Linked DNA regions of Homo sapiens. The protein of the gene in region 2 purifies or fractionates together with the protein of the main gene of each other region. This does not show direct contact. Each region holds a gene or a part of one and is shown on either strand. Other genes may lie near its edges.

Evidence for each region.
Region 1: the proteins of SOX21 (region 2) and RIOX2 purify together in Homo sapiens (affinity purification with mass spectrometry; one large-scale study listed by BioGRID and IntAct). This does not show direct contact.

The regions. Positions count from the first base shown.
Region 1 is NC_000003.12:97,955,139-97,958,948, forward strand, and holds part of RIOX2 (ribosomal oxygenase 2), read right to left. Parts: intron 1-3,810. UniProt on the Homo sapiens protein: Oxygenase that can act as both a histone lysine demethylase and a ribosomal histidine hydroxylase. Is involved in the demethylation of trimethylated 'Lys-9' on histone H3 (H3K9me3), leading to an increase in ribosomal RNA expression.
Region 2 is NC_000013.11:94,710,150-94,714,059, forward strand, and holds the start of SOX21 (transcription factor SOX-21), read right to left. Parts: upstream 2,397-3,910; 5' UTR 1,901-2,396; coding exon 1,070-1,900; 3' UTR 1-1,069. UniProt on the Homo sapiens protein: May play a role as an activator of transcription of OPRM1. Overexpression of SOX21 can up-regulate the OPRM1 distal promoter activity in mor-expressing neuronal cells. May play a role in ameloblast differentiation.

The DNA.
Region 1 (3,810 bases), on a different chromosome or scaffold from region 2:
TTTCCCAGAGCCTACCCTAGCAAAGCACCTAGCACTCAACACAGGCTCAATGAATGTTGGGATGAATTGAAAAACTATACAATCCCTATTTCAACTGAAAAATAAGATGTAATCAAAAATTCATCATTTTCTTGGGCAGCTGAGCCTCCTCTACCCTATTCCAAGTGGGTGGACCAAAACATTCTCCCCAAATTACTCCTGCCCTGAGCTGCCTCCTTCCCAATCCCACTCAGGCCAAAATATTCCATGTAGCAGCTACCTATGGAGAAAAGAGGGAATCTTGAGGGCAGCTCATCTTCTCTCTGCAACTACAAGAGGTAGTCTAGTGCAATGGTTAAGACCATGAGCCCTGGAGAAAGAGCTCAAGAAATGCCAGCTTAAAAAAAAAAATTAAGATTCTCCTCAAAGCAAGAGGAATATATCATGATATATATTCATAAGAGCTATCTTAGTTGCAAATTTTCCCTGAATGACAACAAACTGACAGTACTTCAAGTAAATGCTTTACTGATAATTATAACTATCATTTACTGAGTGTCTCTGTGCCAGCCTGAGTGAGACTCTCAGGTATACAGTCACATGCCACTTAACAATGGGGTTATGTTCTGAGAAAAGTGGTATGTCACTGCGCAAACATCAGTGTACTTACAAATCTAGGTAGTATAGTGTACTACCTACATTACATGGTACAGCCTACTGCTCCTAGGCTCCAAACCTATACAGCATGTGACTGTACTGAATACTGTAGAAAACTGTAACACAATGGTGTTTGTGTACTTAAATATATCTAAACGTGGACAAGAAAAAACACAGTATAAACAATAATAAATGGTACATCTACATAGGACTGGAAGTTACTCTGGGTGAGCCCGTCAGTGATGGTAAGTGAATGGGAGAGCCTAGGGCCCTACTGTACACTTTTATATGACTAGCAAAGAAGTAGGGTTGTTTAGACCAGCATCACCACAAACACGTGAGTAATGCGTAGCACTACAACATTTTACAATGGCTACAATAACACTAGGTGATAGGAATTTTTCAGCTTCATTATAACCTTATGGGACAACTGTCACATATACAGTCTGTTGTTGACTAAAATGTCAACTGGCACATGACTATATTTCATTCATTTCATACACATTTGCCCCACCCTCCTGGCTGGAAAACGTAAGTAAACATTCTCCCCTACAGCCTCCTGAAGGAATGCAGTACAGCAACCCTAGAGAGATCCCTTTTAGTCTCCTGACCTTCAGAAGCATAAAATAATGAATTTATGTTGTTTTAAACCATTGAGTTTGTGGTAATTTGACAAGAAGCAACAGAAAAACTCAGACAGACATACAGATATTGCCTCTAAAGATTTTTTTTTTTTTTTGAGACGGAGTTTCGTTCTTGTTGCCCAGGCTGGAATGCAATGGCGTGATCTCGGTCACTGCAACCTCCATCTCCTGGGTTCAAGTGATTCTCCTGCCTCAGCCTCCTGAGTAGCTGGGATTACAGGCATGAGCCACCACGCCCAGCTAATTTTGTATTTTCAGTAGAGATGGGGTTTCTACATGTTGGTCAGGCTGGTCTCGAACTCCTGACCTCAGGTGATCCACCTGCCTCGGCCTCCCAAAGTGCTGGGATTACAGGCGTGAGCCACCGCACCCCGCCTAAAGATTTATTGTAAAGGAGGCAGCAAAATAATATTTTTCAATCCTCATAGCCTGCAAGGTAAATATCATGATCTCTGTTTTAATAAAGAGGAAACTGAGACTTGGATTAATAACTTGACCAAGGACATACAGCTAATAAGTGACAGCAGCTGAATTCAAACTCAGATCTGTCAGATCCCTGAGCCACAGAGTGGTGTTTCCATCACAGGCGTGATCTCATCCTGGGAGTCTGGGTCTGCAGATGAACTGCACGGGCTGCCACTAGCATAGGGGAAAGAAGCGGATAAGGGCTCCAAGACCCCCACTGTCACCCTCCCATGCCCATCCCTCAACCACAGCCACTAAGCCTTTCTATTTCATCATTGGGCATTGACACAAGGTTTCGCCTGAAGAGGCCCACTGGTTAAAAGCTCAAATGTGGGCCAGGCGCAGTGGCTCACGCCTGTAATCCCAGCACTTTGGGAGGCCGAGGCAGGTGGATCACGAGGTCAGGAGTTTGAGACCAGCCTGGCCAACATGGTGAAACCGTCTCTACTAAAGATACAAAAAATTAGCCGGGCATGGTGGTAGGCAGCTGTAATCCCAGCTACTCGGGAGGCTGAGGCAGGAGAATTGCTTGAACCCGGGAGGCGGAGGTTTCAGCTAGCTGAAATCACGCCATTGCACTCCAGCCTGGGTGACAGGGTGAGACTCTGTCTTAAAAAAAAAAAAAAAAAAATGACATGCACATACACATACACACTTGAACAATACTGTACAACATGGTCTTTCTCTGTCCAGGAGACTCAGTGCATCTCCTAATGGACTCTGTGTTGACTGTTTAATGGGCATGGGCATGGCAACAATACAAAGAATCCACACCCTTTACACTTAAAGGCCACTATGAAGCCTGACCTTCTCGGGCAGAGCAAGTAGCCAGGTCACCGGCCTGAGTAACTCAGCCCTGACTTCCGAGAGTACAGATGGCTTAGTCTTTAAAGATAACCAACCGTGAATCTATGTAAACATGATGCAACAAAGCTGGCAACCTCTGTGAAGAGCCAAATGGAAAGACAGTACGTATTTTTGGTTTGCGGGCCATGTGATCTCTGTGGCAACTAGTCCGCTCTGCTGGTGTAGTATGAACACAGGACATTAAGGAATGGGTGTGGCTGTGTTCCAATAAACTACTTACAAAAACAGGCAGCAGGCCAGATTTTCTGGTCCATGGGCCACAGTTTGATGACCACTGACTAAAAGCATAAAAAAAACCAGTAAGGTTACCTTTACTGTTGTTTATTGATTTAAGTCTCCTGTAATATAGGCACCCATCCTAAACAGCAAGATTGTTTCCCTTAGTTACTGGGAGGTAGGTAAGGATTTTGAAATCAAGAAACACACAAGGCATTGAGTAAGAAACAGGCTAATTATAACTTCGAGACACAAGAAAAACAATAAGTATATGCAAATGTGTCAGGTTGGTAGAATCTTTGGAATGGTTTAAAATAACTATTGTTTTATTGCTAAAGGAAATTAAGTTACATGTTTTAAGAAAGAGTATAAAGTTGAATTATGGAACTACTCCTATCCATGTAACGTTCTTTTCCTCAACAACCTCTTCTGCTGGGGATTGGCTATGTTCCCATCGATGTTAACTGCTCAAAGACAGATTTTCTCAGCAGCAAGATGCCAAGGAACCTGCACATGATTAAGCCACCTGAATCCCCAGAGAAGGAATCCTCAAGAACTTTCCTGATTACTACTGTTCTGGTAACTATGCAGGGGGCACAGAGATAGCCTGACATATAACCAGGATGAAAATGAGTCACACTGGAATTTTAGCAACAACAACAAAAAAAACTAAGGGATCCCTGGCTATGTTCTGCCTAAGCAACTTCCAGCCCTGTGCTGACCATCGTCTTGGATGTGGAGAAGCTGCCCAAGGCCAGAGCTTCCATTTTTCCTCTAGAGGAGTCAGTGGTTCACTGAATTCTCTTTCTTCCTGTTGGACTTGAACTGTACATGAAAACAGGTTATTTGGGAAATGAACTTAATACTTCCTTAACCCACTTCTCCAAGTGCAAACCACCAAGACTCCTTCAGAAATTACATGTGCTGGCTGACAGCAATGAGAAGCACCCTGCCCTGAAACCCAGGGATATATTCCCACGGG
Region 2 (3,910 bases):
CGATTCTGAAATAGTTTCGCAATTTTTAAAAGTTAACTTTGATATTCGCTCAAAATGTTTTTGAGTCTAAAGTCGACTCAAACTTAGGGCAACGAAAATAACACATTTTCCAAGCCTCAATGTTTTCACTGACATATACACATTTACAATCTTAAGGTGAACTCAGCCATAAGGGAAAATAGGAGCAGTGCCTTTTTCCTTTTTTGTAAACTGTGTCAGAAATCCAAGCGAGTGGACTCAGGGAGACTTCTAGTAGTTTGTTGTTGTTGTTTGTTTAGGAAGAAAATCCAATTGACAACTTTCATCTCACAAATATTTCTTGTTTGCGTTTCTTGCCCTTGAGAAAGAGCTCTTGCTCTGATTTGCAAATGGCGTGATAAACAAAAGAAACCGTGATCATCTCACACAAAAGGCCAGATTCGAGCCGGTCACTGGTCAAGAATGGATCTGGTTGGGAGTTCTGCTTGAGAGAACAGAGATCTGCAAAGTTCAAATAGTACAAACAGGGAGGCGAGGCTGCTCAGAGCCATCCCACTCCCAGAAACGAATGACACAAGCAGCTTTTCCCGTGTGCCAGCCATTTCAGACCTCACATTTGAACAGCGTGCATGCAACACGGACCGGGAGGGGGTTGGGGGTTGGGGGGCTGAGGGGCGAGGAAGAAGAATGAGAAACAAAAACAAAACCGACCATGAAACTTCCAACAAAACTGGAAAGGCCAACATGTCAAAAAGTTACTCCTCCACCTCCGTGGGTCAAAACGCAACAGGTTCCGAAGTGCAAAGCAAACGCCAACTGCTGCCGCACACAACCGCCTGCTTTCGAGTTGGCTGCCGAAGTGCGGGTCTGAAATGATCCTGCGAATTCACAGGCCTGCTCGCCCGCGCCCTTGCGCGCTTGGCCACTCCTGCCCCGCCTGGCCTCTCTGCCTCTACCTGGCACCTATACATTCTATGTACATACAAACCGGGCCCCCGGTCGCGGGAGGGCGCACGGGGAGGCCGCAGCGCTCGTACCTATACATATGTACACGTGTGCACACCGGTCCTCGCGAGGCGGCCCCGCGGGGTCATAGCGCGGCAGCGTAGGCCGCGGGGTAGGGGTCCAGCTGGGGCTTGCCCATGCCCGGCAGCAGGATGTAGGCGAGCGGCGGCTGCAGCCCGGGGCTGGGCCACGCGCTGCAGTTGCACGGGATCATGTAGCCCGGGTTGCCCGGGCTGGGGTGCGAGTGCGTGTGCCCCCCGGCGGCGGCGGCCGCCGCTGCAGCCGCCGCCGCCGCGCCGTGGAAGGCGCCCGCGCCCGCGGTCGGGTAGCCCAGCGACGACGCGTACGGGAGGCCGGACGAGGACGACGAGATCTCTGCCATTTTGGAGCCCAGGTCGAGCAGCGAGTAGGGGCTGCCCGCGGCGGCGGCGGCGGCGGCAGCGGCGGCGGCAGCGGCCGACTGCGGGAAGAAGACGCGTGCGGCGGCAGCGGCGGCGGCCGCGGCCGCCTTCTCGGGATTGGCGAGCAGCGACTCAGGCACCAGGCCGCCGCCCGCCCCCGCGTGCAGCCCGGCGCCCGCCTTGAGCGCAGGGTGCTCGGCGTCCGCCACGCCGCCCAGGCCGTAGGGCACCGGGAAGGCGAACTTGTCCTTCTTGAGCAGCGTCTTGGGCTTGCGCCGCGGCCGGTACTTGTAGTCGGGGTGCTCCTTCATGTGCATGGCGCGTAGACGCTTGGCCTCGTCGATGAACGGCCGCTTCTCCGACTCTGTGAGCAGTTTCCACTCGGCGCCCAAGCGCTTGCTGATCTCCGAGTTGTGCATCTTGGGGTTCTCCTGGGCCATCTTGCGCCGCTGAGCCCGCGACCACACCATGAAGGCGTTCATGGGCCGCTTGACGTGGTCCACCGGCTTGGACATGCTCTCGCCCTGCCGCGGCTGCAGCCCGCCGCCTCCCGGGCCCTCGCCCTCGGCCCGGAGGAAATCAATGTTGGCTGCCCGCGGAGACCCGCTCGGCCGGCCGGGGCTCGTCGCGCCCCGGCGTCGCTCCCGCCCCGGAGGAGGGGGCTGGGGGACCAGCCCAGGGCCACGCCGCGCCCCGGGCCGCCTTAGTGTCTCCGGCCGAGCGCTCGAGCAGGTTGTCTCTGGGACACTCTAACTTCTCGGCGGTGCCCCCTCCCCGCGGCGGCAGTTTGCCCTTTACGTTCTTTGGGTCCTTCGTCTGCAGTGGCGTTTGCTGGTGAGCTCCCCGCAGGTAGCGGCGGCCGGGCAGAGCGCTCCTCCTCCTCGGTCGTTCTCTCTTAAATGCAAAGCGTCCCCAAAAGTTGCGTCGCGGAGACTCCTCGAAGTTGAGCCGAGGAGCCCGCCGCCGCGTGCTGCCAAGTGCCAAAGGGGGCTCTCAGCGGCTGGAGTGTTTGGGTTCTCCTCGGTGACTTTCTCATTTGACAGAAGCAGATGGGGGTGGGGAAGGCGGGGAGGTGGCCCTGGAGGAGGAAGAGGAGGGGGAGGCGGAGGAGTGTCCAGGCGTGCCACGAGAACGCAGAGCGCAGCAATGGATATAAATACAAATACAGCAGCACCAGCCTGTCTTCTTGGCTCCGGGCAGGGTGCGCCGATGGGAAACCCCCAATCGGCTGGGTGATTTTTTTTTTTTGGAGGGGGGAGCTGTCCCCCGCAGCACCTGCCTCTCGAGTCTTCCTCTCCCGCTGCTGGACTGACGGGTGGGGCGAGGAAGGAGGGTGGATGAGGCTTGAGCAAGCGTTGGTCGCCCGGCCTCAGAGGAAGTTCTCCCGGCTCGCCGAGGAGCCGCGTCCGGCCGTCCCCTGGGCCATGCCGGCTCTGTTCGCTCCGAGCCCCTTCAGGCGCGCCTGCCGACTTAGGGCTCCCGGAGCTCGCCGGCCGCGGAGGGCAGCGCAGCCTCCACGCGGCGCCGCAGGCCTGGCACCGGCCGCGTCCCCGCCTCGCTCTTCTCGGCAGCCGCCTGGCACTTGCAACTAACTTCGCCCAAGTTTCCTGCGCCGCGGCGCCCCTCTCGGCGCGCTCCTGGGAGCGTGCGCCCGCGAGTCCGCCGCGCCCGGGGCCCCTCTGTCCTCGCTGCTGTGGCCAGAGCCGAGCCGGCGCAGGGGCGGAGGTGCTGCAGGAGAGTTAAGGAAAACGGGCCATCACCTCAGTTCGCAGGTCCGCGCTGTGGCACCTCCCGCTCTCCCCACTCCCGCGGCGCAGGGGGCCCCTTCCCAGCCCAGGCCGCCCTCTGCACCGGCTCAGGTGAGTGTGGCTACCTGCATGTGTGCGCGCCCGGAGCCGGCACTGGGTGTGCATGTCCAGCCGCGGCTGTGTGTGTATATCTGGGGGCCTGCGGAGGAGGTGGAGCCCAGGACTCGGGGAGGGAGGAGGGATCAGCGGAGCCGCCTCCCGCTCCCACACCCCCAGGACCTCGAATTAACAGATCCCCTCCGCCCCCCGCCCCCTCCCAATCCTCCTCCTCCCACTCCTTTTCACTTGAGAGCAGGTTTAGGCGAGTGGAGAGTCCGGAGCGCGCCGGGGAGTCTGCGCCCTGTTTGGCGTTGGCAAACCCTGGTGTCATCCCGGCTACCCAGGCCGGCCTGGCGTGCAGCTGCCCTGGTTGTGGCCCTGGAATCCTCGCCGGGAGGAAGAAGGCGGCGGGCACGAGTAGGAGAGCCTCTCCAGCTACGGAGGAAGAGGGTTAAACCTGGAGAAGGGGAGACTCACCCTTGAAAATGTTTGAGACTGTTCCTAGCAAGAAAGTGCTCATTTTCCTTGGAGGTCCAGGTGTTGCTTGCAACAGAAACAGAGGCTTCTCGCATTTTCTTGCACTGGCGATGCACCTAGTCAGAGGTAGTGGAGTGAAAAATAACTCTGGAGGGAATAAGGACATTCTTGGCAACCTTTCCAAAAAAGAGCTAGCCCAGA